3 separate regions of the Homo sapiens genome follow, and all the other regions are linked to region 1. Evidence: fine-mapped expression QTL. A gene starts in region 1. Each other region holds a variant in brackets. All regions are shown on one strand. Distances are between the middles of the regions.

Region 1 (10,690 bases):
TTACTAGCTAGTTCTCTCTCCTCACTAACTTCCACCCCCTACCTGGGGCTTCAAGGAAACTCCTCTCTGGCTTCCTACACCACTTGAGAGGGTGAAAAATTCAAAGTGACAAAGAGCACTTGTTCTATCCCTAAGGTTTCTCAAAACTATCTGGCCATCAGAGTTCTCAATGCAATTGTCGAGGCCAGGTTCTCTTTGCTCTCATGGGAGTAAGGAGAAGAAGGGTGAAATCTGTAGACAGAGCCATGTCTAAATCTTTCATACTTCTCTGCCCTCCCCAATGTTTTTTTCCTCTCCAACTCCCCTGGAATTAGGGGTAAAAATTCTTGTGCTGCCTGCTCATATTTCTTTTTCATTATTTTCTGTTTACTTGGGTGACAACGTTTTAATTTAAAAGCTGAGACTATAGAACCTTTCATCTTTGTTGTGGACAGTTTCTGAAATGGTCATTGTCAATCTTGGAAGCACATCAGTATCACCGAGAGAGATTTAAAAAGACAAATCAGAATACTTGTGGGGTAGAACCCAGGTATCAGAAATGTTTAAAAGCCACTCATGTGGTGCTGATGTAGAAGATGACTGGGAACCACTGCTTTAAAAGCACAGGTGCCCAGTGGGATAGGAGGGAAAGAACATGCCCATTAATACCTCATATAGCATCGTGACACAAATGCAGAAAGCCAGGCACAGAGAGACTGAGACAATTCCTTTAGGTGATACAGCTGGTAGTTTTCAGAGTGGGAATCTAATGGAGCCCCAAAGCTCATGTTCTCTTTCAATGTATTTGTAAAGTTCATAGGCCAGAGCAGCACACTTCACCTGTCCTTTCTACTCCTTCCTCTCATTTCTGTGCCCTGTCCACCTCCCACGATGCCTTCAGACCCATACATTACAAGTGACCGGGAACTGGTGTAAGTAAAAACTGTTGAATACACATTTCCTTTGGACAGTTGAGATTTCTACTGCATTTCACCCCTATAGAATGATCAACTTTCTAAACAAACTTCGTTCTTATATGAGTTATAGTGCTATCGGTAGAGACCTGAGTTGATATTTCTTACTCCTTGTCATGCTTTCTAATCGCATGACCAGGCAAGCCTTGGGACAGGACTGTGAGTTTCTAGTCTTGTCTGAAAACATGACTGTCTCATGTTAATGTTAATGTCAACACCAATGTTAATGTTAAAGCAACAAAATACATTAAGTAAGGTATTTTTAAACAGAATTTCATTGATTCAATCAAACACTTGCACAGCGTTTTGCATCTGGAGTGGCCATAGAGACAAAGGAGAGGGTGAAGGTGGCTGTTTTAATAAGCTTTAAAGAAGTTAAGAAAGTTCACCATCTTAAATGACAAGGAAAAGACAAAGAAAAGACAAAATAGAAAAATCTTCATTTTTATAATATGTTAACTTCAATAATAGTCTTCTTTGGCTAAACCATTATTAGGGGGATAACACAAACTTGCCTGACTAATTCCTTTACTCTTAAGACACAGCTGAGGCAAGCATTTTGAAAGAAACATTTCTGTACTTCTCACCAGCCTGAGTTAGGAGGCTTCCCTCAGTGCTCACAGACGCACTGGGCTTACCCTTTATGCACAGCGCTTACCACGAGGCGCTGCTTTATAAAAAACCTGTTTATCCCTCCTTCTCACCAGATCATGAACTCCCTGGTAAGGAAGGAGCATGTCCTTAACCCATACCCTTAGCATCTAGCACAGTCCCTGGCATATAGATGTTCAATAACTATTTTGGAATGAATACCAATATTTTATTATTATAAATAATGATTGAAAAATTAAAAGGGTAGCAACTTAAAATGTTATAAATCAGAAAAATGAGTCAGAGTGTAGATGAAGGTTAGATGACTCAAGCTGGGAAGTCATTAACTATTTTTAGCTCGTTTTAGCAGCAGGGAGTCAACCCTAACCTGGTGTTTAATTTCCAGGGTATAGAAGACCAGAACAACGGAATAGACTTTAAAAGTGATTTAATCACTGATTCTTCACTTCATGCATCCCTGGTCACTATTACCAAAAGTCATTTAAAAGCCTTATGCTTAGTGTTCTACATAGTAATTTTAATGGCAATGATTACAAATCAGTGAGATCTTCAACATAACAAAAACCACACTGAGGTGCTCGTACATGTGCCAGGAAACCATGAGTAGTATTCCTTCTTTCAAGAAAAAAATGTAAGACTCCATTTATGTTTATTAGTCTATACTGTGCAAACTTGGGCATGGATAAAATATAACCTACTGGTTAGTTAATTGTTTATTCAATAAATCTTTTTGAGCTATGAAATTTTTATAAGACTTTTTGTCAGGAATTATGGGAGGTTTAACATAATATCCACACTCAAACCTGACAGACTTTACCATCTATTTTAAGAAAGGAAGAGGAAACAAAAACCCAAGTGGCAAACTATTCAAGACCAAATGTAAATAAGTACCACATTGTATTTTACAGATGAAGATCGTGTAGATGTTGAGAAAAAGGGGAGATCTGTAACATCCAAAGCCAGAGGAGTAGAGATGGGAGCTGATATTTCTTACTCCTTGTCATGCTTTCTAATCTCATTACCAGGAAAGCCTTGGAACAGGGCTGTGAATTTCTAGTCCTGTCTGAAAACATGACTGTCTCATCAACCTGCAAGTACAACCTACAGGGACTCATGGATAGAGACCCCAGAAGATTCAAGTTTCCTGCTGAGGAAAAGCAAGGCAGCTCTGCCTTCTTGTTTCATCTCTCCAGTCTATAAACAAACCTTTTTTTTTTGGTGATTTTTCTGGGCCCCCCAGGATAGCATTGAAGTACTGTCTAGTGTTCCTAGGTGCAAGAAGGTTGTGATGTGCCTTAGAGAGAAAATATATATGTTAAATAAGCTTAATAAACTTGATTCTGGTATGAGTTTTAGTGCTGTTGGCTGTTAGCTCAATGTTAATGAAACAACAATATACATGATATACATGAAATAAGGTGTCTTTAAACTAAAATATATAAAGAAACAAAATTGTGTATTGATCAGTTGACAAAAATGTTAGAACCACGGCTTGTGGAAACCTACCTTCGTATCTCCACTAAGAGTGATGGCTCAGTATTGTAAAACCATGTTCTCTTCCTCTGTCCAGGGCATAGTATCAGACCTTTACAGGCACAACCCGTCTTATTGCGCTTCTCTTAACTGTGCTTCACAGACACTGCATTTTTTTTTTTTTGATGGAGTCTTGCTCTGTTGCCCAGGCTAATCTCGGCTCACTGCAACCTCTGCCTCCCAGGTTCAAGCGATTCTCCTGCCTCAGCCTCCCGAGTAGCTGGGACTGCAGGCGCGTGCCACCACGCCTGGCCAATTTTTTGTATTTTTAGTAAAGATGGGGTTTCAGCATGTTAGTCAGGAAAGTCTTGATCTCCTGACCTCGTGATCCGCCCACCTTGGCCTCTCAAAGTGCTGGGATTACAGGAGTGAGCTATCGCGTTTTTAACAAATTGGAGGTTTGTGGCATCCCCATGTTGAGCAAATCTATTGGTGCCATTTTTCCAATGCCATGTGCTCACTTGATGTCTCTGTGTCACATTTTGGTAATTCTCACAATATTTCAAGCTTTTTCATTATATTATATCTGTTATGGTGATCTGGGATGAGTGATCTTTGATGTTACCATTGTAATTATTTTGGGGAACCCTGATCCATGCCCATATAAGACAGTGAATTGAATCAATAAATCTTGTGTGTGTTCTGACTGCTCCACCAGCCAGCCATTTCCCCATCTCTCTCCCTCTTCTTAGGCCTCTCCATTCTCTGAGACACAACAATATTGTAGTTACGCTCATTAATAACCCTACAATCGCCTCCAAATATTCACATGAAAGGAAGAGTCACATGTCTCTCACCTTAAATCGAAAGCTAGACATGATTAAATTTAGTGAGGAAGGCATGTTGAAAGCTGAGATAGGCCAAAAGCTAGGTCTCTTGTACGAGTTATTCAAGCTGTGAATGCAAAAGAAAACTTCTTGAAGGAGAGTAGAAGTGCTACTCCAGTGAATACACAAACGATAAGGAAGTGAAACAGTTTTCTTGCTGATATGGGGAAAGTTTGAGTGGTCTGGATCAAACCCGATCAAAGCAGTCACAACATTCTCTTAACCACAGCCTAATCCAGGGCAAAGCCCTCACTCTCTTCAATTCTATAAAGCCTGAGAGAGGTGAGGAATCTGTAGAAGAAAAGTTGGAAGCTAGCAGAGACTGGCTCATGAGGCTTAAGGAAAGAAGTCATCTCCATAACATGAATGTAAGGTGAAGCAGCAAGGGCTGATGTCAAAGCTGCAGCAAGTTCTCCAGAAGATCTGGCTAAGATCATTGATGAAGGTAGCTACACGAAACAACACATTTTCAATACGGATGAAACAGCCTTATATTGGAAGAAGATGCTACCAAGGACTTTTACAGCTACAAAGAAGTCAATACCTGGTTTCAAAGCTTCAAAGGACAAACTGACTCTCTTGTTAGGGGCAAAAGTAGCTGGTGACTTTACATTGAAGCCAAAGCTCATTTACCATTCTGAAAATTTTAAAGCCCTTAAGAATTATGCTAAATATATTCCACCTGTGCTCTATAAATGGAACAACAAAACTTGAATGACAGTACATCTGTTTACAGCATGGTTTATTGAATATTTTTAAGCCCACTATTAAGACTTACTGCTCAAAAAATGTTTCTTTCTAAATATTATTGCTTAATATTGGTTAATAATATACTTTGTCACTCAACAGTTGATGGAGATGTACGAAGAGATTAATGTTGTTTTCATGCCTGGCAAAACAACATTCATCTTGTAGCCCATGGATAAAGGAGTAATTTTGACTTTCAAGCCTTATTATTTAAGAAATAAATAGATAGCTGCCATTAATAGTGATTCTTCTGTTGGATGTGGGCAAAGTAAATTGAAAACCTTCTGGAAAAGATTCACCATTCTAGATGCCATTAAGAACATTTATAATTCGTGGGAGGAAGTCAAAACGTCAACATTAACAGGAGTTTGGAAAAAGTTGATTCCAACCCTCCTGAATGACTTTGGGAGTTCAGGACTTCAAAGCAGGAAGTAACTGCAGATATGGTAGAAATAGCAAGAGAACTAGAATTAGAAGTGGAGCCTGAATATGTGAGTAAATTGCTCAATCTCATAAGACTTGAATGGTTGAGGAGTTGCTTCTTATGGACAAGCAAAGAAAATGGTTACTTGAAATGGAATCTACTCCTGGTGAAGTTGTTCACAGCATTGTTGAAATGACAGCAAAAGATTTATAATTATATAAACTTAGTTGATAAAGCAATGGCAGGGTTTGAGATGATTGACTCCAATTTTGAAAAAAGTTATAATGTAGATAAAATGCTATCAACCAGCATTGCATGCTACAGAAAAATCTTTCATAAAAGGAAGAGTCAATTGATGCAGCAAACTTCATTGTTGTCCCATTTTAAGAAATTGACACAGCTATTGCAGCCTTCAGCAATCACTACCAGGATCAATCAGCAGCCATCAACATCCAAGCAATGCCTTCCACCACCAAAAAGATTCCCATTAGGTGAAGATGATCTTTAGCATTTTTTAGAAATAAAATATCTTTTTAAGTTAAGGTAGGTACATTGCTCTTTCTAGACATCGTGCTATTGCATACTTAACAGACTACAGCATAGTGCAAACGTAACTTTTATATGCATTAGGAAACTGAAAAATTCGTGTGACTCGTTTTGTTGCAATACTCGCTTTATTGCGGGGGTCTGGAACCTAACCTGCAATATCTCTGCGTTATGCCCTTATAGCGCCGGGAGTGGGTGCCTTCCGCCGGCTGTACAGAGCGCCGGCAGGTGGCGCCCAGCGGCGAGCTTGTTCCAGCTTGGTTTGGGCCAGGTGGACTGGAAGGGGCGGAGGTAACCAGAAGCGGCTAGTGGCGGCTGCCTGCGTCCCCAACCCCCTCCGCGCAGCGCTCGCGACACGCGTGCCAGGAGTGGGAGCGAGCGGCGGGGCCAGCTGCGTTCTGAGCCTGGGCGCAGCTGCCATCTGCTCTGGGAAGCACCAGGGTGTCCCCGCCGCCCTCAGCTCGAAGTCAGCCACCATGGAGGCGCAGGCACAAGGTGAGTGGTCGCCGATCGCCCCGAGAGTCAGGTCCTGGGGCGCGCATAAAGGCTCTTTTCCTGCACCACCTAACTTCGCTCTCGGACAGAACAGATTGGTGCCGTGTTGCACATCCAGAACTCCACTCCCACCCGCGCCTTTGGTATAATGCCTGCTGCCCAAACTCAGGATTTGCTGTGGGTCTGGGGATCAATAAAGTGACAGGGGATCCGTAAGTGGAGAGGCCCCTCCTCAGGAAATGCGCCCGTGGAATGCTCTACCCTCTTCCGCAGCCAGTCGCCCCTGGCCTTCCCAACCTCGCGGCTGCCCGAAGGACCTGTTGTGCCGGGTCCGGAAAGCGTGTTTCGCTCCCTTTCCCTTGAGGGAGTGGGGAGGGAATGTGACTCTTTTCGCCCAGCGCCGTGGACTCGCGGCTTGTGGCTCCCAAGTTAGGGAGTGAGAGGATCGCCCGCCGAGGGGGTGGCTCCGCAGCCCGGCTGCGCGAGACGCTTCCCGCTCGGGGACCCGCCTTCCGAGGCCAGGTGAACGTTACCGGCCCCCTGACCTCCAGCAGATCCACACGTGAGTCCCGGTTTCCGCGATCGGGGAGCGACCTCTGCCTCCCGTGGCGCGCGGGGCCCCCGGCCGCCCAGCTCCCTGCTCCCGGGGCTGCCTGCTGGAGGAGCCTGCGGTGGCTTCAGGAAGGGCGGCCTCATATCTTGGGGTCACACTTGGAACAGGGTTGGGGAATTCCGATGGAATCGTTCAAGAATGGGGGTAAACGGACCGTGGAAAGGGGCAGAGGTGGGCGGATGTGGAGCGAGAGACAAGTGGGAAGGAAACGGACTCAGTGATCTACCTTGGGGAGCAACGCCCAGAAGGGATGGCTTGCGGAGTTCAGCCTTTAAGGCAATCAAAGCCACCATTCTTTTACACAGTAGGAAACTCTGTGTTGGCTCTTAGTATAGATAAAATCTCATTAAAAAGAAAAAAAAAAAGGTTCATGACCTGATGCGCTCGCCCTCTAGGGGCAGAACGCCCTGAATGAGAGTGGGTTGGCGATTGCGTGGGCCTGGAGTCGCCCAACAGGTTTGCTGCCAGGATTACAATTGTCTGAACAGCACGAACCTTACTCGTTTGTTCCATCCTCCTAAGTCCTGCCCGTAAAGCTGCCGCTTCCCATATTTTTTCCTCTATTATGTAGATAGGAAATGATAATTCAACCAAGGGTGAGGGCAGTTGGTCAAATTCAAAAGCAGAGGTCAGGTTGGAGGCCTTCACGCCAGAACTGAAGCTGGTGGGAGCAGCACCGGAGCTTTCCAACCTGACTTGCATATTAGAATTATTTAGAGAGTCTTCATTACTGGCCTTGGCCAACCCCATCCCAGTCAAACTGGAATCTTTGGAACCTGAACATGGGTATATTTGAAAGCTTATATTAGTGAGGATGGAGAAGAACTATAGCAGATAGGAAACATTCATACAACTTCTGAAGACATCCGAAACTACAGACTGGTAACCACTGGTGTCACTGGTTTGCTTTATTGCTTTGCTTTACTTCCAAGATTTACTTAACAAATATTTCAGTGCTTTCCTTTGCCAAGCACTGTGCTAAGAAGAGCAAAGACAGACTTGGTATCTGCTTCATAAAATTTACAGTAGAGGAAGAGACAAATATTAATTTGATAGCTATTTGAAAAATAACATGTAAAATCACTGCCATGCTGATGCTAAGAAAGGGCCTCATAGTGCAGCGAGAGCCTGAAAAACTATAACCCTAGTATGCAATAATCAGAAGAGCAGATTGTTTATTGTGTCCCTGTCTCTGTTCTTCGTGCTTTGCATGTATTGATGGACTCATTTCCTGTGCGCAGCAGTCCCATGAGGTAGTTCATATTCTCATTCCCATTCTACAGAGAGGAAACAAGCATGGAAGGTATTAGGTTGGTGCAAAAGTAATTGCAATTTTTGCCATGACTTTTTAATAAGTTCCTTGTTTACAGCCAGATAGGTAAAAAGTAGCAAAGTGGATGCTGTGAGGGACCCATTCTCACTCAAAGCCTATGACTTTTGGAGGAAAGGTAAAACTTCAGTCCCCACCTGAATCTCCAGCTGTCCTGTGGTGCTCTTCCTTTCCCCTCATGACTGGATGGAAACTTTAGGTGTAAAGAGGACTAGTAAAAAGGCAAATGGATATGAGAAAAGTGAACAGATTTAATAAATACTTAAGAGGCCAGGTGCAGTGGCTTACACTTGTAATCCCAGCACTTCGGGAGGCCAAGGTAGGAGGATCACTTAGAGCCCAGGAGTTCGAGACCAGCCTGGACAACATAGAGAGACCTCATCTCTACAAAAAATAAACAGAATTAGCTGAGTGTGGTGGCATGTGCCTGTAGGCCTAGCTACTTGGAAGGCTGGAGTGGGAGGATTGCTTGAGGTCAGAAGTTTGTGGCTACAGTGAGCCAAAATCCCAGCATTGCACTCTAGTCTGGACAAGAGTGAGACCTTGTCTCAAAAAAAAAAAAAAAAAGAGAGAGATACAAAAAAGGCCAGCCACACCTGTAATTCCAGCACTTTGGGAGGCTGGAGGAGACAGATTTTTTGAGCCCAGGAGTTTGAGATCAGCCTGGGCAACATGGTGAAACGCTGTCTCCACAAAAAATACAAAAATTAGCTGGGTGTGGTGGTGCGTGCCTGTATCCCAGCTATTTGGGAGGTTGAGGTGGGAGGATCACCTGAGCCCAGCAGGTGGAGGCAGCCGTGAGCTGTGATTACATCACTGCACCCCAGCTTGGGCGAGAGGGCAAGACTCTGTCTCAAAAACAGATAAACAAAAAGAGAATAACAACAAAAAAACTTAAGAAAAGTCAAAATTGGATTGAATGTGAAGGAGGGCAGTGTCAAGGATGACCAGCTTCCTACTTGTACAATCAAATGGAGGATAATTACCTCTTAAATCTTTATTTGCCTAGCATTTTAAGATTTTCATTTTCAGACTTTTTGTTATTTATAAAGCAGAGATATTGAGTTATTTAAGAAAAAACTTCTCACAAACTGTTTATAGCATATATTAAAGGGAAATCTTTTTTCCACTTGCACATTTTTTCTGGCTAAATGAATGATTTGCCTCTTAGATTCTAGATAAGACAGTTCTGTGATTTTTAAAGTGTAAGTTTCCACCTTCAGCACAGTTTATTTTAGAATTACCTAGAGTGGAGATGGCTTGTCTTTCTGCCTGCTAATCTAGAGACAGGTAAAGATAAGTGAGATTAAGCAGGCAGTTGCTGATGAGTTGTACCTCATATTGTCCAGGAAGACACCAAGGTGTTATGGACATGATTCGCCCATATAGCTCAGTAAGTGCAGCAACTTACTGCACTAGAAACTTTCCCATAAGTGAAATTATGCAAATATGTTCTTTGACTTTGTAAAATAATAGATTACTTCCAGCAAAACAAGAGGACTCTCAGGGGAGGTGGTAGGACACTAAACAGGAAGTGGGATTATGGGTGGAGCTGTTCACTGAGGAGGGCTGGAGAACAACGTGGAGAGAGATGTCCACAGGAGAATGGCATTCCTATTTGCTTTCCTCTGGTACCAGATAATTTTGCTTTAAGACAACTGATATGTTAGAGAGGGAATTGGGTTGGAAATGTAGCATTTTCCCGAAACATACAGTAGTCCTTTAAAATAAAAACTTCCTGATCCTTTTAAACTACCCTTCAATATTTTATTATTCTAAATGGAAATAACTTTGTTGTTTTCACCTTTCCCAACGTCTTTAATGTTACAAGGAAAACTGTCTCCTTTTAACATTTGCATATATTCAAATTAATAACTATGTTAGTTTCTCAAGGCCACTGTAAAAATTACCACAAACTTCGTGGCCTAAAACAATTAACATGTGCTGTCTCATTGTTTGGCGGTTAGAATTCCAAAGGCACTATCACTAGGCTGAAATCAAGGTGTCGGCAGCGCTGTCCTTCCTCTGGAGGCTCTAAGAAAGAAATCGTCTTTCCCTCTTTCAGTTCCTGGTGGCTGCCGACATTCTTGGGCTGCATCACTCCAATCTCTCTGTCTCCGTGGTTATGCTGCTTTCTGTTCTGTTCGCATCAAACCTCCCTCTGCCTCTCTCTTATAAGGACACTTGTGATTTCATTTAGCACCTACCTAGATAATCCAGGATAATCTCTCTCTCTCTCAAGACCTTTAACTTAATCACACCTGCAAAAGGTAACATTTCCAGGTTCCAGGAATTAGGATATATTTAGGGGCCATCATTCAGTTTACTATAATAACTATTTTTTATATCCACTCAAGAAGAGTCTCAGATGTCCATGAATGAAATAAAGCAATAAATATCAGATTAACCCTACTGTTTGCAAAGTCCTTTAAATGAAAATGTCATTATACTTTACATTATACTTTATACTTACATTATAAGTATACATTCTACATTATACATTATACTTTACATTATACTTTATACCTTACATTATACTTTGCTCACAGAACATTTATATAATTTTATCTTGTTTCAGGAAGTACATAAGGCAGTTTATATGGATACTTG
Region 2 (10,690 bases), 47 kb after region 1:
TTAGAGAGAGTTTATTCAAGGGCAAAGTTTGAGGATAGCCCACCTATAAACACCAGCTCCAAAGGAATGGAGTCAGTGTTCTGAAGTAGGGAAGTTAAAGTTTCATTTATATATAGTCAGAGACCAGGGAGTTTTTAGCAGGATTACAACATTTTTCTGACAAAGTTGGCACACAATTGCAGCAATTTGATTGGTTGTATAGGCTGTGTTTCTTTTTGGGAAGGATACATATAACATTTGTTACAGAGGGTATAGTGGTTATGGGTTTTCTGTCAACTGGCCTAAGCAAAGCAGGACAAGAAAGGGGAAGTTAATCTGTAACAAGGGTCATTAAGATGGCAGCAGGTTTTTGTCCCTGTTGTTGTTTGAGTCTCTCTAGTCACTGTACAGAACAAGAACAATAAGAAACAAGTTGTTCTATAATCTGAGAAACAGAAGTCACAACCCTGTGTGGCTCAGATCACAATCACATCTCTCTCAAGGCTTAAAGTGTCTTCAGGGTTCCAACAGGTTTTAAATCATATTTATTTTCACACTGGGTACATTGTGGACCGCTAAGTCCTTTGAGAGTAAGAAGCATGTCTTCTGCATTTTGTGTCACCCATCCATGAGAGAAAGGTTTTATATAAAATGAGTAAATTTTTGAGTGGTATAAGATTAAGTAAATTTTAGATCTATGGAAAAGGCACTTACGTGAAATTCTCTGATGATACTGAACAAATTGCATTGTTGTCTTGGTCCAGTCAACAGGCATCTTTTTGATCCTTTGAGGTACCAAGCAGGTTTTACCCTTAGGGCATCTGACCTAGCTGTTACCTCTCCCTGGAAATCTCTTTTATTCTGGAATGTCACATAGCAACTCCTTCTTAAGGCCAAGTGCACTGACCCATCTTAGAGAGGCTTTCTGCAACTTCTCAGACCATTGTTGGTTTTGCATGGTGACAAAGCCTGTCTCCAGTCACTCCATCACAGTGCCCTGTTCGCGCTATCACAGCCAGGCCAGTTGTTGCCCACTTGCTCATCATATGCATCTCTTAAGCTTCAGGAGAGCAGAGGCCCTGTCTGCTCTGATAATCATTGTATCTCCAGGACCTAGAATAGTGCTGAGCTCACAGTAATGCCCCTTACATCATACTATATTATTTAAAATCAGTGGGTTTTGACATTGGCTGCCCATCAGTGTCACCAGTGGGGATTAACAAAACACAGATGTGCAAGGTTAACCTCAAAGATTCTAATTCAGTAGGACTTGAGTGATGCCCTTAAATTTGGCTCTAAATGTATTAATCATCAAAGACTCAGGAAAACAAGGAAAGATAAGCTTTCTGTAGCTTCCAAAGTTGTAGCTGTTTTTAAAATTGTTTATATTTTCTTTTAAACTCTCATCCCATATCCTTAAGCCTTGTGACTGCCACAGAGAGAAAATAAGATCAAGCATGAGCTTACATTAGCCACAGAAACACCTGGGGCAGTTCCAAAGTTTTAATTACTGCTTCATTAATGTAAAAGCTTAACTATAGTTGTAATGTATAAACAACTTTTGGCATGTGCCCTGCAAATGCAAAAAAGTCTAAATAATTATTGTCGTGGCTCCTGTCTCAACGCAAGACCAATGATCGCCAAATTATTTTTAAGACATGGACTACATTAAAAAGTTATTGAATTATGTTTTCTGTTAGCTTATATAAAGCACATGACATTTAATAACTTGCAAAGAAATGCTTATTTTATCTGTAATATATACTTTGGTGTTTATCAGATTCTGTTCAAACTGTGTAGCAAATTTCCTTGAAAATAGAACTTTCTTTTTTCCTCACATCCCTGTATTTGATATCAGACTATTCTTAGACTCTCCACCTCACTCATCACCATGGTGTCTACGGACTTATAAGTATGACATGCTGTCACCCTTATTTATACATGAGGTATGGAGGTGAGCGTGAATAAGAATCTTGCTCAGAGCCAATTAGTTGCAGATCCAGCATTGGAATTCCTCTCCCATAGTATCAAAAGTGTAGTCATATTCCTAGATCATTAGGCAGGAAGAAAAAGAAAATAAAAGAAAAACTACTCAGAGACATCTGGCCGGATCTGTGCCTTTCATCAGAATAATCATGTCCTGAATCTCCCACTGGGGTTGTCAGAAAAGATTTTTCCCAAGCTTTTCTATACCACGGAGAGCTACATTTAATTTATAACCTGAAAGTATCCCCTAAAACAGACTCATAATCATGCTTGCTGAAATTTTAGCCCAGCCTTCTTGCTTGCTGAGAAAAGAGCTGGCTGTCCTTTCTCTTTGAATAAGCCTCCTTGTATGAACAGTCTCTAGAGATGTCCCTTTTCCAGATGAAAATCTGTTTTATGTGTTATCATGTTGACCTTCCAATCCCTTGAATGATTTTACGTTTTCATCTTGGTAGGTCTGTTCTCTCTATAATCTAATTTAATAGTTCTAATCTGCACATATCCACCACATATCTAGTTCAATATCAAGCAGGTATCCAGTGAGTTCACAAACTCAGAAGGGCAAGAAATATAACTTTTCTTATTTTTCGGCAACTCATTTTCACTTCTATTTTGAGTTCTTTTTCTACCAGGAGAATTTTAGGGAAATGTTTGCCCCCAGATCAAGAGACACTCTCCTCTTTCTGCTTGCTAGGCCCAAAAGAACAGACTCTTTTGAAAAGTGCAGAGTTTAGAACTCTAAGAGGAAGAACAGTCAGAAGGATTTTTTTTTAAGCAAAGTCTATTTTTCACCCAAGGTGGAATATAATATAAAGTACTAATCAGTTATACAAACATGTTATTTATAAAATAACAGCCCACTAAGCGTCAGAGGTGAGGGGTTGCCCCATCCAATTTTCAGAGTCTAAAAGAGGCATCTGGGTGTCCATTACCTGAAACAGCACAGGCGCTAGTGTCTCCAGAGAAAAGGAAATGGAAGAGGGAGGCAGGGGATGTTACAACAGGGTGTGATTAATAGCAGCTCACTGCTGGAGTTCACTCAGGAAAGGCTGGGTAAATGCTGCAGCTCAAGGTCAGTGTGAGGCAGGCCAAGGGATCGGTTAGCCCTGGAACTTCTGAGTGAGTCCTTGGCTCCAGTTAAATAAGAAGCAGCCAAGATCTGGGAAGGTCAACACAGTCAAAGCCCTACCAGGAACTAGGATTATACCCTGGGCTTCAAGCCAAGACCAGGGCACTCTGGCTGATCTGAGTGTGATCTTGAACTCTGCTTTGCCCTCTGAGAGAAGGAGCCGAAGCTCTGTCTACCTTCAGGGACAGAGGTCTGGAGTTAGTTTCCTGATTACAGCAGGAACAACCCAAGAGGCCATCAGATACTGGGAGGTTCTTACAGTGCTCTAAACCCTTTCAGGCAATTTGAGTCTTCTGTGTCTATTGTCTTCACAGGCATCTTGTATAGTGTTGGAAACCTATAGTGATAAGTGATTTTCAGCTACTTACTAGAGATGGGAGAATTTCAAAGTCCTTTCCTTCATTGTCCATCTTTACTCATTTGGGTAGAGTTATACCCAGTTCTATCCCTGCATACATACTTGCATGCATGGGGTAAGAGAGATCTATTTACAAACACGTGACCACAAACACATGACCAGCTTCCAAAGCTGAGAATGCCAAGGACACATGGAAGTTATTGGTCACCTGAGTATAGAAAAAGCAGGGAAACCCAGCTCAACCACTTTCTGTCTATGAACGTCAATTTTCCTCTTTATAAATTAGGGATGTGTATAAAATAATGTGCATAAAATCTTTGGCACAGTGCCTAACACATTGTGAACACAAGTGTCAGCCAAAATTATGAGCATGCAGCTGTCTCTGTGTCTGTTGAGCAGAGCTTCCTCAATGTGTTGTCAATGGCTCAATTTTGGAAACGGGCAATGTCTCGAGACAGTGCTGATTGCCACAACTTACGGGATGAGTACTACTCGTATCTAGTTGGCAGAGGCCAGATATACTGCTGAGCATCCTGCAGTGAACACACAGTTCCCTACAATCACAACAATGAGTTCCCCTACCTGAAATTCCATAGTGCTGAGGCTGAGAAATCCGGCGAAATGGTCATAGCAAGATGAGATGAGTTTAGCTGATTTCCTTCATCCTTAGGAATAAGAACATGTTAACATATTAACATTATTGACCTCTACCAGCACTTAAAGGACAAAAAGCCTATCAAATCTAAACCTTGCTATGAAACAAAATCTGATTCTTGTGAGAGAAAAGTCTTCCTTGATTCTCAAGAGAAAGTAAAAGGTTTTTGTGGTTTTGACTTAAATAATTCTAATGACTCGATTTGTTTATTGGACAATAGATTGAAGGAGCTAAGCTGGATTTTGTTGATTTTAATTTTTACCAGTAATGTAGTATAAAAAATGTTTTGCTAGACTTGTATGATTTACTAAATAATTATTGATATTTGCATATCATGTAGGATCAAGAAAAAGTCACATGTTAAATTCTGTGTACAGAGATAATTATTTTCAGTCAAATGAAAGTAAAAGAGGCCAGGCGCAGTGGCTCACGCCTGTAATCCCAACACTTTGGGAGGCTGCGGCGGGCAGAATCACCTGAGGTCAGGAGTTCAAGACCAGCCTGACCAACATGGTAAAACCTCATCTCTACTAAAAATACAAAATTAGCCAGGCGTGGTGCTACATGCCTGTAATCCCAGCTACTTGGGAGGCTGAGGCTGGAGAATCACTTGAACCTGGGAGGCGGAGGTTGCAGTGAGCCAAGATTGCACCATTGCACTCCAGCCTGGGCAACAAAAGCAAAACCCCATCTCAAAAAAAATCAAAATAAAAGTAAAGGAGATATTAAGTTTAGCTTGCCTGCAATATACAAATTAAATGTGCTAGAATTGAGCACTTATAGCACAAATTATAGGAAATAAGATAGTGAAAAATTAAAAATTACTTAGGTCATAAAAATGCAGAAAATACATAAAGATGCTTTGGAGCCATAGAGCACCTGTTAAAGCTTGACTTTCATTGTATTTCCATGTTGTTCCATTACATTAGGGGAAGCCTCCTTAGTGGCTCATCACCTCATTGCCTAGACTGGGTAAGCAGGGACACAGGGTCATTGCTACCTTTCACAGGTGCTTTACTGTGCTAAACTTCTGAAAAGCCACCTTTTAAAAAGGGAACATGCATTTTCAAAGCCACTGATTATTAAACCCCTCTTTCAGTCATCTTATTTGCAGACTTTCATTTTTGAGCTTTGTTTGCCATCTGGGAAGGATTTTGAAAGAGAACATAGGCCTCTTCCTGCTTTTATGTTCAGCATGCCATGAATTGCATTAATGAATTCTTAAGATCGTTTGATCTATTTAAAAAAATAGCTCTAGATTCAGTCAGTTGTTAAAAAAATGTGTTCAAGATTGTCTATAATTGCACTAGCCACAAACAGATTTTCGTAGGTATTTTCTTTGTAAAGAATCTATTTGAAATATTGGAAATGTTTTCAGGAACTAGAGACAAAAGATATACATGGTTTTTTGAATAATTTAGCATGTCCTAATTTTTAAATGTCCCTCAGTAGTCATTTATCTGCAGAGCAAGTAAATACAAATTTTAAAAAAATTAACAGTTATATACGTGCTTATTGTAAACAGTCAAGTAATACAGAGGAATATAAAACAGAGTGAATCATCTTCTCCCTGTCCAACCTCACCCTTTTGCAGCAGCCAACATTAACAATTTGGTACATATCCTTTCTCAACTTTCTCAATGCTCATACAAATGCATGGATGTTCATGTTCACATAAAAATGGTGTTTTATTCCTCCCCCAAATGGTGCAGATGCAAATATGATGCAGTAACTTGATTTTTGCATTCAACAATATACAATGAAAATTCCTCCTAGTCAATACATGTCAATCCAATTCATTATTTTGTCAACCTAAGGTAGTCATAAGGGTCAGAATCCAATTTAAGGAGAGGTTATTTAAGTGCATATTGTGAGGGTGGCCAACTCAAACATGCCAACTCCAAAGGAATGGAGTCAGCGTTCTAAAGTAGGGAAATTAAGGTTTCATTTATGTAGTCAGGGACAGGGAAGTTTTTAGCATATTTCATTTTTCAGACAGGGTTGGCACATTGTTACAGCAATTTGATTGGTTTATAGGCAGCGTTTCTTTTTGGAAAAGTTACATTTAACATTCATTACAGAGGGCATAGTAGTCATGGGTTTTCTGTCATGTGGTCTTAGCAAAGCAAGGTA[C/A]CAAAGAGGAAGTCAATCTATAGCAAGGGTCATTAAGAAGGCAGGAGATTTTTGTCCTGGACATTTAATTATCTCTAGCCATTGTAGAGAACGAGAAAAATAAGAAAGTGAGTTAATGTATAATCTGAGAAACAGAAATTATAACCATATGTGACTCAGATCACAGTCACATCTTTCTCAAGACTTAAAGTGCTTTGGGGGTCGCAACAACTTTTGCATTATATTTATTTTCACAAATTTTAATAACTGAAAAATAGTATACAGTGTGGGTATATTATACTTGAATACTGGTGCCCTACTGATGGACGTTTAGGTTTTTGTAGTTTTCTACCACTACCAACAATGATTTATACTCTCTCCTTAGGTTTGCACCTTTTTTTCTGTAAGATTGATTCTCAAAAGTGGGATGGCAGTGTCAAAGGCTCTCCCAATCAGGTGTCACAGTGCAAAAGCCAACAATGTGTGGTTAAAGGATCCATTTTTTCACAATCTTGCCAACACAGGCTCTTATCCCATTTTGGCTTCTTTGCAAATATCTTAGATGAAAAACAGTATCTCTGTGATTCTAATTTGTGCTTTCCCTATTGCTAGTGAGGATAAGTGTCTTTTCATATTTCATCTCACCATTGCATTTTCTTGTCTGTGACTTGAGTGAAACTTTTCTAATTCTTGCATATTTTATTCTTGCTCAACATGTCACGACTCAGAAACACATATTTCCATCTCCTTTAGCATTTATTTTGCTACTCAGATTTCAGAAGGAAAAAGGATTTTTTTCCTGGGCATTGTCAGTAGTAGCTATTTGGAATGCTAAAGATTTGATAAGAGACATTGAAGAAATGTGAATGTTACTGAACCGATTTGCTTAAAGTAAAGGGAAGACTGTCTATACGTCTGACCAATGCTTTTTGAATGTTCAGGCCCCTGAATCTGGCTGCAGTCCCAGTAGGCATGGGTCCAGGCGTGATGTGTTTGTGGTTGCATCATGGCATCGCTGTCTAACCCTCGCCTTTGCATTGAAGTTGTGCAAAGATTAGAGAACTGTAAAAATCTCAGGCCTGTCTGAGGAAGTCTTTCTTACTATCTATCCCTTTCTTTAAACATGCCTTGAAAAAAAAAGCTACATTTTGTCCTGCTTTGTGTTCATAGTGAATATCTTTCATTGTCAAGAAAATTTTTTCCTGAACTAGCTCTGAAAGATGACTCAGCACTTTATAAGATCAGTGAGCCTTTAAGGAATGACCTAAGATGGAATGTATCCTGTCCAGTGAAGCTCAAGGCATGCACAGGTCGTGTTCACCTCACTCCCTCAGGAGTTGAAGGAGATAAGAAACTGGTCCCACAGCCCTCAACTCTAGCTTGGGTGCCTCGCAGCTACTCAGCTAACCAAAGAAATGAGTGGAAAATCAGTTCTCTGGTCTATTTTTGATGGTGTGAGAAGAAGGAGGATGAGGAGGAGAAGGAGAAGAAGAAGAGATTACTTCTCATTTTAATTGAAATGAGTGACTTTTTATTAATGAGCTTGAATTCAGAATAATTTATTACCCTGGAGTTTTCTTATAATATAATAAGTGAGACTGTTTTCCTTTTTGCTTAGGGCAAAAAATGTAAGGAGGCTGAGTGTTACATTTGGAGGTTTATCTTTTTTTTTTTTTTTTGAGACGGAGCCTTGCTCTTGTCACCCAGGCTGGAGTGCAGTGGCCCAATCTCAGCTCACTGCAAACTCTGCCTCCCCGGTTCAAGCAATTCTCCTGCCTCAGCTTCCTGAGTAGCTGGGATTACAGGCACCCACCACCACACCTGGCTAATTTTTGTACTTTTAGTAGAGATGGGGTTTCACCATGTTGGCCAGGCTGGTTTCAAACTCCTGACCTCAGGTGATCCACCCACCTTGGCTTCTCAGTGGAGGTTTATCTTGTCAGGTTTGGCTTCCTTTTCCCAGTTCCATGAAATGTGAATTTGAATATGTGTTTGTGTGGTCAGGGAGAGTGTTGGGAAATGAGGGTGGGATACAGAGAGAAGGATGATTTAAAGGTTTAGATGGTCTGGTTATTTTTAGTTTTTCTATTCCCATTTCTGCAATAGTTTTTATTTTTCCTCATACACTATGGGAGTTTGTTCACAGAAGGAAGTTCCTGGAGCCTATCCATCAGGAACATTAACTATATTTTTGTTTGTTTTTTTGCATAACTATTTGTTTAGTTTTTCCTTCCCAAATTTGTGGCTGCTGTGTTCTTGTGACTTTTTGTCGGGGGTGTTTTTTTCTTGCTTGCAGTGTTACCCACAATGCATCTATTTTGTGTGTATTAAACAGTCCCTTTCAAGAGTACAAATAATGGTTTGAAATAGGAAGAGTATCCCAAATGCTTTAATCTTATATTTGAAATGTAGGAAATTGGAGGAGCTGAGGATATTTGTGACACATATTTTACATCTTCTCATTGAAAGTAGAGCTGTTGTTTGTCTGCATGGTTTTGAGTTTGGTCACTGAAATGCTAATGACACAGCAGAAACCCTTGGTGTGTGCATAAGGCCACATGACCTCAGGTCAGGAATAAAAGCTTAGGGCTGAGCAGCTCACTCTTTGGTTGAGAATCCAGTTGGCTCCCCTGGAGTGAAGTTCTACACAGACCCTGGAGGAACCACCCCATCTGTAAGGAACCTAAGTTTCTGTATTTCTGGCTTTCATTGTAGAAAACCTGATGTCTTCTATACTTGTTCCCTTGACCTACTTCTAAAACAGTTTATAAACAATTTCAATAATATTCACAGTCAAGTAGAGCTGTCTTTTACTGATATATTCTAAACAACATAAATTAAGGTGGAGCTTAGAACATATAACACAACTATGTCCTAATGACATGAGGAGACACCTTTCTCCTGCAAATAGTCCCAGATATACATCAGTTTTCAACTTGTCAGGATGGCGGATAAGATTCTGCTGTAGGTGTCTTTAATTACCAAGTGGAACTAACATTCTAGTGTTACCTGCAATGTAATGAAGAGCCTGATTCATCTTGATCTTTTTCACTGTACTTACTTATCGTTTTCCTGAGAAAGTGTGGCTTTAGCATTTGTTTTACCTGAGCATATAAAGGTATAAACTCAAGCAGAACATTGATAGAATGAAAGCTAGACCCTGGCTTAATGTAGTCCTTGAAGGAACAAGATGCATTAACAAAAATGGAGTGATGGTTCTAGTAGAGCTGGTATACTGATGCGTGCTGATTGTTACTTCTCTAGCACATGTTATTTGCTACCCTTGTTAATGGTCATTGCATTGGTTGCAAGTCTTGGTTATTTTATATTCAACACTTTAAGAAGAAATGTGCTTCCCTGGCTAGTTATCAGATTTTTTATTTTTATTTTTTTTTCGACGGAGTCTCACTCTGTCGCCCAGGCTGGAGTGCAGTGGGGCGATCTCGGCTCACTGCAAGCTCCGCCTCCTGGGTTCACGCCATTCTCCTGCCTCAGCCTCCCTAGTAGCTGGGACTACAGGCGCCCGCCGTCACGCCCGGGTAACTTTTTGTATTTTTAATAGAGACGGGGTTTCACCGTGTTAGCCAGGATGGTCTCGATCTCCTGACCTCGTGATCCGCCCACCTCGGCCTCCCAAAGTGCTGGAATTACAGGCGTGAGCCACTGCGCCAGGCCTATCAGATTTAATTTATAGGCATTTGAATAGTACAAATGTAAGGGCATGATAGCTAATTAAATTATTCCCCAAATATTTATTGAACACCTAGTGTGAACAAGGAAGCAGTGATACGAAGAATGGGGCATCTAACAATCTAGAGGAAGAAAAAGACAATGAATTGTGGAATTAAAATACAGCATAGTAAGTGCTTCAATATTAAGTCACCTAACTCTTTATTCTCCACAATGTTTAGCAAATAATCTTTTGCTGTTCATTTGGTTTTTCAAGTAGATTTTGTTCTGAGGAAGGAAAGAGAGCACAGAATTTACCTTAAGGTATTTGGTCTACTAGTCAAACCAGTCTCCCAGCAGATTTGTTAGTAGAAATTATCTCCCAAGAGGCTAATCACCATTGTGTAAACTGATGGAATACAATTTCTGGACCTAAGAAAACACAGGTGAAGCCTTGGAATATGATATGTCTCAAATATGCAGCAAACTTGGTGACCCCGACCTGAAAGGCCGGCTGATCTTATGTGGTAATGAAAGCTGGGTCTTAATGCAGGGACATTTTCTGTAGTTAGCCCAGTGAAATGATGTCCCAAGCCAGCCACTCCCACGCTTCTGAGCAGTGTCACCTTAGATGGTCCTTCCCATCACTCCAAATTTCCACAGCTTCCAGTGCCTTCAAGAGCATACTGTATAGGCACAAGCTAGGGATGGGACCAGGGAGGCCTTGGGTAAAAGCAGCCAGTTCAGGCTCTCTGAGATTCTTGTCTCTGGAGGTGAATAGGAGTCCTTGCTTAGGTCTTGG
Region 3 (10,690 bases), 99 kb after region 1:
TAAACTGCCTGAAATTCCATGGTTTCATGTAGTCAAAAAATGTTTTTCCAAAATTAAAAGCTAAAATCATGTAGCAAAATGTAAAAATAAAATTTAATTTGAATGAGCTGACATTTTTTGGACCTTCAGAGAAAAAAAGAAATTAAGCAAACTTCCTAAAAGCTGTTCATTTCTTTCATCTTGTCTCATTTGCTGTTTGACCCAGTGCCATCTGGCATCCACATTCCTTGTTCTCCTCACACAGTCCTCTCCAGAGACACAAATTACCCCCTAGTCACCAGATTCTTCCTTGACCCTTATTCTGCTTGGTCTTTTCATTTTTGATAGGAAATGTCTGTTCAGTAAATGAACATTTGGTTTTATGATCTAGTTAATGTATGTTTTTATACTTCCTAAAAAAACATTGTGTTAATAAATAACATATAATGCTAACAATATTATAGACAGATTCCATTCTGCTCACAAAAAGAATACCACATTAATAAAGTTATTTCTGTCCTAGGGAAGACCAAGGCACATATTTGAAAATATTCACTAGAGCCTGAGATCATACTTAGGACTGGATGACTTGTGGGAGATGGAAGGGGTAGAGGAAAAAGGGCAGTTCCTACATAGCTGATTTCATAGGGTATAATGTTTTCTTACAGATACCATATGCATGCAAGTATAACAGGGTTTTGGGAGAACTTACCTGGGAGCAGCATAAATCAGAAGAAGACAGCATATGCATTTTAAGATTTGAGGGTTTTTTTTAATGTGTATAAAAATTTTGTTGATTTACTATTATTCCTCAAGTTATGTACCTTTTATTTCCCACTTTCATAACCAACTCAGAAATTTCTCATCCCTATAGGTAGCATCACTGTCCTTCCTGTCATGATGCTCACAGCCTCAGGACAACCTTTGGTCTTGCTCTTATTTATCACTTACCATCTCCTGTTGAATCTGTCCATTCTATCCCTGTAATCCATCATACCTCTTTCTTTTCCTAGTGCCACTACTCCCAGTTCAGAGTCACAAAAGGTTGTCCCTTTTGATATCACCCACTCGTTCATCTACTATTTATTGAGTTTCTTCTTTATCCCTTTGTCAGAGACCAGGGACACAAAGATGAATGGCTTCCTTGCCCTCAAGTAGTCAAGTCTAGTATGACATAGGCTTATCAACAAATATTCACAGTATATATTCCTAAAACTGTTTTGAAAAAAAGTCACTATATTATCTTCAGATAATGTGCTTTTATTATTCCCAGCTATAAATACTAGAAAAGTAAGCTAAATAACTAGCTGTGTTTTGCCTTTTTCTGGCTTATTTTACCCAAATTAACAGTGTAAGCTTAGATGTACCTTCAAAACCTAAACCTGCATTCTCTAATTTCTGTGTCATCCTTGATGCCTAGAGCTGTCATTGACAAGTGTCTGTTTTAGAACTAATACACTTCAAGAACAACATTCTGCTCACTGAGCAGTTCCATTATTTGTCATGAAAGAGCTGCACATTCAGATCTGTATTTGTATTTGTATCTGTATATACTTCCTAAATTCAGATTTAATGGTCTGACTTTCCTTCTGATGAACAGCAGCCAACCCATCATCCCCAGACAATGAATGGAAACAGTGGTTTTGTGGATCTTCTTCCTAAATCTGTTGAGGAAAGGACATTTTCAAAGTAAGGAGTGAGAAGGAAGATGAATTGTTTATGGGAGATCATGATATAAAAACCATGTTGTTCTGTTTTATTTCTAGCTACAAGAAAACACATGAAACCCTGAGTCACGCAGGGCAAAAGGCAACTGCAGCTTTCAGCAACGTTGGAACGGCCATCAGCAAGAAGTTCGGAGACATGAGGTACTGTGGGAAAATACCATGGGAACGGCGCTAAGCCCTTGGCTTTCCGATTGAAGGGAGCACTAGCTATTAGCTGCTCATCTCAACATATGTATTTTTTTATTTTAATGGATAAAAATGTTATATGGCTGATATGATTGATGACTAAGATAAATTTTCACACTGGGACATTTTCTGCCTGAAGGTCAGGCTTAGGTGGCCTGGTCCCAGAGTTGCTGTTTCTACTAGGACCCGACCTGGTAAAAATAGAAGATACAGGGTAGTGAGGCAGATTTGAAAAGAATGCAGCATGTGCAAATTCTTACTAGCTGTAATATAAATGATAAATTAAAACATGCATTTAGTGGAATGCACTCCCATAAACTATTCTAGATTGCATATTTGTATACATCCATCTAGTATATTTTTTCTGTGTTAAATAGGTACATATTTATCCTTTTATTCCATAAAGGTACCACACATATACACTTCTGGTAGTTTTCTTTCTTCATTTTCTAACTATTTTGTGAGTATGTTAAATATTTATTGCACCTTCATTTTTAATGAATTTATCTCCCAGTGCGTAGCTATAGCAATGCTTTTAGATAAGTAACCTTGCACATTTTCATTATTTTCAATATTTCACTGTTACATAAAATAAGGGTGACCATCAAGGTTGATTTTGACTTGAGAACCAAAAGTTCTCACTGGAGGCACCAGGAAAAAAAAAATGTAGTATTGCCCATAGTTTTTCATATTATATACAATATTATATACAATATATTATATACCATATTATATAGAGGTATTACTCTTAGTTTTTGCTTATTTAAATACCAGTCATAGTTTTATTTTGCATTTGGCTGATATGCCTTGGAGGATTTTTCTTTAGAAATCAGTTTCATTTTTCCCTCTATTCTTTAAAAACTTTTCGAGCACATTTTACATTTCTTCTTTAAAAAAAAAAAATCTCTGCGTATTTATTTTACTGGATTCTTAAACTGTTACTTTTTTATTAAAAAGAAAAAGCTTTGGGCTGGGCACAGTGGCTCATGCCTGTAATCCCGTCATTTTGGGAGACTGAGGCAGGTGGATCCCTTGAGGTCAGGAGTTAGAGACCAGCCTGACCAACATGGTGAGACCCTGTCTCCATTAAAAAATATATATATATACACAAAAATTAGCCAGGCATGGTTGTGTGTGCCTGTAGTCCCAGCTGCTGAGGAGGCTGAGGCAGGAGAATCACTTGAACCCAGGAGGCAGAGGTTGCAGTGAGCCCAGATCACGCCACTGCACTCCAGCCTAGGCAATAGAGTGAGACTCTGTCTCAAAAAAAAAAAAAAAAAAAGAAGGAAAAGCTTTGACACTGAGAGGCAAATATCTTCCTAACTTTACACTTATAGATACATCTTTATAAATTATATTATTAAATTTTATTTACTTCAAAAATTGCTGGACTGTCCACAATATTCATTCACTATTTTAACAACTAGGCATTCACAAGGACATGTGCATGAATCTGAGTACATTGTTTTATCTTCATTTTTACTAATGCCACAATAATAAAAAGTAATTGAAATTCTTCAGAAGCAGGTGTGATAAACAGGTAAACCTTCTGGATTATTAATTACCCCTAATTTTATTACAAATAAAATTTGTAATAATTTTAACGGCGTTATAACATTTATCTAAACTAATTAAATAATCCTTTAAAATAGGAAACCCTCTATAACCTGTTATACCCAAGAAAACATATTTTCCCATGTTTATAAAATTGATTCTCTTCATACTGTGTTGAAATCTTTCACTTGAACCCTGGGAACTCCAGCATGACACTGCTAACTAGAATAGTGCTTCTGCATCTTTAGGAGATCTTACAAACACCTCTGAAGCTTGTTTAGAATACATATTCTTAGGTTGCACCTCTCAGAGGTTGTGCTCAGTAAGTCTGAGGTGGAGTCTAGGAATCTGCATTTATAACAAGCTTCCAGATAATTTGGCTTCAGAGGGTCAGTTTATGAGGAAGACAGACATAGCTTAGCTCACCTGTATCTGGGGTTTTCACTAATAAAATGGAGATAAGAATAACAATGTCACTGGACTGTTATAAAAGTAGCAGAAGAAAGTCTGACATGTATTATGCACTCAAAAAATTGCAGTTTTTTATCTTTAAGTGACCAGCTCAGTTACAAGATGGCCCCACATGGTAGAAATTAGGGAGAGTACATTAACAGGAGCCCACTGTATTTCATAAAGGCCCTGCTCATTGTTTTTCCCAATAGTGAAGAATGAAGACTGTGTTTCACATATGCAATATGTTGGCATTCATATTCAAACACTAATTGGGTACAATGTCAAGGTTGTATTGACTGCCTTTCCTCCCGTTTCAATGTGGCTTTGTCTAGTATAGTGGATGGCCTATTTTCCAGGACTTCCAAACTTTCCATTTGTTATTATCCCATGTAGAGGGTACAACATTTTCATTATAAACTGTGGCTAAAAATATTGGAAAATACAATCTGTGTTGCTAGATAATCAAATACAATCCTGAAATATTTTGAAGAGTTTGAAAATTTCAGAGCTTTATTTATATAATATTTTATGTGTATATTTCTCTCAAACTATATCTAACATTTGTATATAAATGAGAATAACTCTTTGTGAAAGCAACAAGTTTTACAAAGATTTTTACTTTTAAATTATGCCCAAACAAGTAATATAAATAAAAGTCATTTTGAAAGTGTTTAAACTTAATAAAAGACCTTAAATGGGAAAAAATAGTAAGCTTTGATTGTTTGTTCAAAAACTAATGTGCCAATTTGTAAATATGGGGAATATGTTAAAATTTGGTCACAGACCTTTTATTTTAAACTTCTTTTTGGTTAAAAGTGTCATATTAGTCTACATTTTTATTAGTTACACTATAACATTTTTGTGCATTCTGGTAACAAATTTCTGAATGTATTCAAAAACATTACCAGCAAAATTCAGATAGCTTGGAA[G/GAAC]AACAACAGTACCTCTCAGTTTTTCTTTAAAATAACTCCAAATTAATATTTACAGATTTTGTAAAACCTAGAATTTGGGCCTTTTAATAGCTGAAAAAAAAGCTTTATGTTAAGATTTAATTTGTATGTTTTGTAAAAATAAGTTATATTTTTCTGAGCTAAGTAAGATTCTCATTTTAACCTGATTGTCATGGAATTGCCCACTCTCTTTCTCCATCCATAAAATAACATTGTTAATACCCACTTAACCAAAATATTTCCTGTGAAGTTAAAATGAGGTCACACTTAGGAAAGTACTCAGAAGAAATCCAAGCGGTTGGAATCATTTTTCTAATAACATTGGCATCTTCTGGGAACTTCTCAGTTAATTTGTTCAAACTGATCCACTGGGGACAAAATGTTTGGAGAAGGCATGTCATTTTATTACAGTCCAATCATTGTTATATACTTATAGGAATAACAGAAGCAAAACTTGAGTTGGTAAAATGATTTGTCAGAGACATTAAAAAGTCAGTGTAATCAAGAGTGGTAAATGAAGCTACCCTGTCTGTGCTCTGGGGCCCTTGAAAGGGGACCACCAAGGGCAGTGCAGTGTTTCTCTGCCTCCTGTTTGCTAACTCTGCTCCTGCTCTTCTCTCCTGTGCTTCCGGGCTGCAGGTCTCACTCCATCGGGTAAGCGCCACAGGGCTGCGTGTGGGGCTTTCCCCACTCCCTTGCTGCCCCTTTGCTTTCCAGGGCTCCCTGTTTCTTTCACACTGTGCCTGAACCAACAAAACTACACTCTGTTTTCCAGACAGTTCCCGTGACCAGGAAGATAGTTTATAGGGCACTTAATACATTTGAACTTATTGAAGTACATCTCTATCTCATTTCTGAATCATTTACACCATTTCACTTGCTGAGCTCTCTCTCAGGAGTCTCTTTCTCTGCACCATTTCTTCCGGTGTTGACAGAGCTTCTTAGAATTGAAAAGAAGAAGAAAAAAAAACAAAGTGGAGATTGAAAGTTATATATGTTTTCTGAAACTTCTAGAAAGTAAAGTTGAGAAACAAAAACAGATTTTCTCTAGATTGTCATGTTTCTCTGAATTTCTTGTACCCATAATTTGTGTTGATGTTTCACCTTCAACTTTCTGTGCCTTCTGAAGTTGAAGGGAAGAAAGGTACCGGAAAAGCACGTACGTATGTTAAGAAGTTTGTGATTTTTAATCCCAAGCCCCCGAATTAAAACTTCTTTTAGCCGGAATCTTATTATATACTTTTATTTTTTTAATTTTTTCCTAAGAAAGCGGTCTATATTTACAGAGATACACCAATTGGTAATGCAGATGAGGCTCTTTTAGTGATGCTTTTGAAGTGTAATTTCTGAGGAAATATCTGCCTAATAGTTTCTAAATCAAGTGTCTAGGGTAAGACCGTAAGTATCCCATGAATTTGTTTGTCCTTTTCTTTCTGTGTTCTAGCAAAGTGCTACCCATACTAATGCCCTCAGTGGATATTATGAGGGAAGGGTGACAGATTTGGTCCCTGAACTATTAGCTCCTTGAGAGAAGAGAAAGCAGGGACGCTGTTGAAAAGTGTGAGGTGGGAGCAAGCACTAGGCCAGGAAAATGGACCCATTGTGCTCCTCCCCATGCCCAGCCTGATTTCTGAGTGGAACTCAATAGAAAGTAACAGGCAACCAACCAGAGGGAAGATGAATCAGCTACTAGGATTAATGGGATGAGAAGTTTAAATCTCTTAAAATTCTCAGGAATGTTTGTGTTTGTACCAGATGTTCTTGACAGTCATCTAGTACAAATCAATCATCTTGACAATCAAACCAGAATGGATGCAGAAGTCCCTATGGCCTATGAGAACTGTGTTTGCCTGGCATGTGCTTCCTTGAAAGTCTTATGTTAACTTCTTGCTTTCCTCTGGCCAGTTTCTCTACCATGGAATGATTAGCTTCTACCTGCCTGGCTCTATTTCCTGGATACTGCCTTTTGCTCCTTACTGTTTTCCTGAGCAGAAGGGAGTAGAGACCTAAGTTGGGCCTGGAGAAGATGCCCATGGGCTACTGGGCTCACCTGGGAGAAACCAGACATTCTCAGATTTCCTGGCAAAAGGAGGCTGCAGAAAGTAAAATAATATGCAACCACGGATCCACCATCTACTTTTCATTTATACCCTTGAAAGCTGACTATACCCATTATACCCAACAAAAACAAATGTCATCTTGGTTAGATGGGCAGGGAATATTTCAGATATTTGGAATTGCTGTTTTAGAACTACGAATAGGGAGTTTTTCATGTACTTATGTGTGCTCTCTTCTTTTTTCTTTTTTCCCCTTTAATCTGCTTTTGCTCTGAAGTTACTCCATTCGCCATTCCATAAGTATGCCTGCTATGAGGTAATGTGTGTAAAATATTTTATGTAATATTAATATGAAATGTGTTTAAGGTGTTATTTTATTTATATTTACTTATGGGGTTCCTCTGCTTTATGTGAAAGGAAATTGCTGATGGTCTTCAAAAGAAAAGGCTGACAATTCTGTGGAAGAATTGCGTAGCTTGGGCTTTTGACCAGACATCCTGGCTTAAATCTAGTCTTTCCTGTGTGATCCAAGACAAGTGACTTAACCTCAATTCTTTTATCCATATATTGCAAGAAATAAGACCTACTTCATATGGTGTTTGTGAGGCATAAACAAAGGAACCTACATAAAGCATTTAGCACAGTGTCTGAACATGCCAAGCAATCTTGCAAAGGTAAACTTGGGTTTCTTATTTCCGCAGAATTAAATGCTAGCCTGGGGGCAAGTTTAAATGCAAGGCTAAAGTTCTAGAGAGGATATCATTAGGATTTTTAAGGTGGATATTAAGGTGAGATGTTTGTTAAATAATAAAATGTCAGTATAATTACTGACCAGATAAAAACTGGTGAGAAAGACATTCTTAACTTCAAGTTTGCATGGCATAGTGATGCAATCAGATAAAATTAAACTAATAGCAAGACAGGAATGAGTGTTAAATTGAAAATCAGAAAATGCAGGCTCTAGCCCAGCTCTGCCAAGGATTAACTTTGCACTCTTGGGAAAATCACCTCAATGGTATCAGCTTCATCATATTTAAAATAAGAGGCTAGAACCAGATTAGCTGCTTGTCAAAGATGCCCCTCCACCCACCGAGCCCTAAGGCTGCCTAGAGATGAAGCCTTTGGGATCTTCCCCCACTTCAGTCAGAGCTATGCCTCTTCTACCTGCTTTATATTGATGTTGTTGTTTGAAGGCATTATAGAAGGAGTTTAGTTACTTTCAATAGTTTGAGACCGCCGAAGCCAAATTCTTCATATATATAATCTTTTCCTCTGTTTTTTAACTGTCATGAAGAGAAATTCTTCCTAGGGTCATTTGCAGTGCTAAAAAAGTTTGTACATCTGATTAAATCTTATTAAAGTTGTACATCTGATTAAATCTGATTAAAGAGCTTCTCCCTGTTCTCCAGCATGTATTCTAGTATAATTTAATTAGATAAATGTCTGTTCTATTATATTTTATGAAGGAAGGCTCTTCTACACTGGGGTTATGTGGTTAATTGGTTGATTTGGAAATTCACCCTCAGTATTTAGTTCTCTGTATTTGGTGGTAAACAGAGAGTACAGATTCAAGATTGCTTAATTCATCTTTGAATGGCTTGCTCTCCCTAGAATAAGAATGCCCCAGTTGGGTAGTGGAACCTAAGGCTCTGTTCCCCTTTACTTGTCAAATTTTAAATCTGGGTGTCAGAAGAAGGCTAGTAAAAATTAACATGGTTTTCCCCTGTGAACCAGGAATTCATCTAGTAGTGGCTAATGGGTCAAATGTAGTCTGCATGAGCTTGCCTGAAACTAACTTAAAAAAAAATTATTTTGCTTGTCTAACATATACCCATGAACCATTTCCTCACTGTGGGCCTGTGTAACTGATGGATGACAGGCAGTCATGTGTGCAGGCTTGGCCAAATAAAACCTGCAATGGAAATGAAGTGCCAATAACTATATACTTTTTGAGTCATGCAAGTATAATTTTACTAACATTTCATCATGAAACAGCATTACGGAGGATCACTCATAGGAATTTGACTCGTGTTTGAGTCGTACACAAAATGTGATGCCATGTCAGGGCCCTCTGAATTCACCATTGTTAATCTGTACAGCCTGAATGCAGGTACATTTCTGACCATGTGGAGCACCAAGGACTCAGGAGACAATCCCCAAATTCACTCATAAACATCTATGTTCATTGCCTTTTAGTAGTATAAAAGTGATACTTCATTCTGCACCACATAATGAAACCTATATTCTATAGCTGTTCTCCTTTATAAAGTTTTTCTAGGCCATTCCTCTTATTTTACTTTTTTTTTTTTGCACTCAAGAGAGAATAACAAGTGCCTTATTAATTCAACATTTAGTTGAATTATTTGATCTGAAAATGATGGCAGTTGTTGCTGCTGAAAGCTGACATGGATACAAGATTTAAAATACACTTAGTTCAGTTCCTGTTTCTTTAGTAGGAGCTGGTGGTATTTTTAATGGTGGTGATGTCATTAAATTATAATATCATGGGGCCAAATCCAATACAGAAAACCAGAAAGCACCAAATGAAGTTTTTAGTGCTTAAAGCAACAAAATTATGTATAGATTATTTAATACAATGAATGAGTCACAAATAAAATGCCATTAGGGGCCAGGCACGGTGGCTCACGCCTGTAATCCCAGCACTTTTGGAGGCCGAGGCAGGTGGACCACCTGAGGTCAGAATTCGAGACCAGCCTGGCCAACATGGTGAAACCCCATCTCTACTAAAAATTCAAAAAAAATAGCTGGATGTGGTGGTGGGCACCTGCAGTCCCAGCTACTCAGGAGGCTGAGGCAGGAGAATCGCTTGAACCTGGGAGGCAGAGGTTGCAGTGAGTCAAGATCAGTTCACTGTATTCCAGCCTGGGTGACAGAACGAGACTATCAAAAAAAAGAAAAAAAAAGCCATTAGGCTGCAAAGGTTCTATTTGGTAAGAGAACAAGTAGGTATATCTATTTGAGAGGAAAAATAACGCATGCTAATAACCTCCATTTTGATTGGGCATTAGGTAGGTAATGGGTATGTTTCATCTTAAAATAATGAAAGCATTAACTTTCCAAAACACCACTTCATGTAAGTTGTCAAAATGATTATTTTTTTAAGGCATGGAAAAGAAAAAATATATGAACATTTTTTTCCTTGCACTATTTCTGAATTGTCTCACATTTGCTGAAATAAATAACTTTAAAAAATGCCAAGTGGCAAAACTCAAACATGACATTCATCATATGGATTTTCCATTGCTTACTAAAAAACCTGAGTCAGGAAGAGGAGTGTTGTGATAGAAACAATAAATGCTAAATGAAAACTTAAGCTACCCATTGCTCCACTGGCTCATTGGAAATGATTTACAGTGTACCATGGAATTATTACAGTTGTGTCATTGCCAAATACCATATTATTTACTGTATTGTGTACTGATCATTTTACCTAGAAAAATTCCATGTCAGGTTATGGTTTCTGAACCTAACCTAACAGAAGTGACATACATTTTAAAACGTGGTTGGTGCAGGTGGCAAGCTGACAGGTAGCTCTGTGGCAGAGGCCGTGTTTACAGATATGAGCAGAAAACCAAACAGCATGGTTGCTAAGACAGCTAGGCCTTTGGAGCTGACCTCTCTCTTTTTGTTATTTTAGGAATTCTCCTACTTTCAAATCATTTGAGGAGAGGGTTGAGACAACTGTCACAAGCCTCAAGGTACAGATGAAGTGAATTCTGTGTGAGTGGGTCCATTGACTCAGGACAGCTTAGCCATTGCTGCGGTT

What was found. PIP is the estimated chance that this variant, and not a neighbour inherited with it, causes the effect.
Region 2: its variant is fine-mapped to the expression of TPD52L1 in atrial appendage (GTEx, PIP 0.96).
Region 3: its variant is fine-mapped to the expression of TPD52L1 in tibial artery (GTEx, PIP above 0.99).

The regions. Positions count from the first base shown.
Region 1 is chr6:125,147,834-125,158,523 of GRCh38, forward strand. It overlaps TPD52L1 (TPD52 like 1), which reads left to right and starts at 5,940. Exons shown (of 7, transcript NM_003287.4): 1 at 5,940-6,137. The coding sequence starts at 6,119. RefSeq lists an enhancer at 6,736-7,323.
Region 2 is chr6:125,194,885-125,205,574 of GRCh38, forward strand. The region is part of intron 1 of TPD52L1 (TPD52 like 1); the gene reads left to right. It overlaps LOC100126584 (a long non-coding RNA gene), which reads right to left and starts at 2,933. Exons shown (of 4, transcript NR_149043.1): 1 at 2,898-2,933. The variant C/A (reference allele first, on the strand shown) is at 6,241.
Region 3 is chr6:125,246,537-125,257,226 of GRCh38, forward strand. It overlaps TPD52L1 (TPD52 like 1), which reads left to right. Exons shown (of 7, transcript NM_003287.4): 4 at 1,746-1,847; 5 at 7,181-7,219; 6 at 10,562-10,622. Among named protein-coding and RNA genes, the nearest start is that of HDDC2, 50 kb to the right of the region's middle. The variant G/GAAC (reference allele first, on the strand shown) is at 4,829.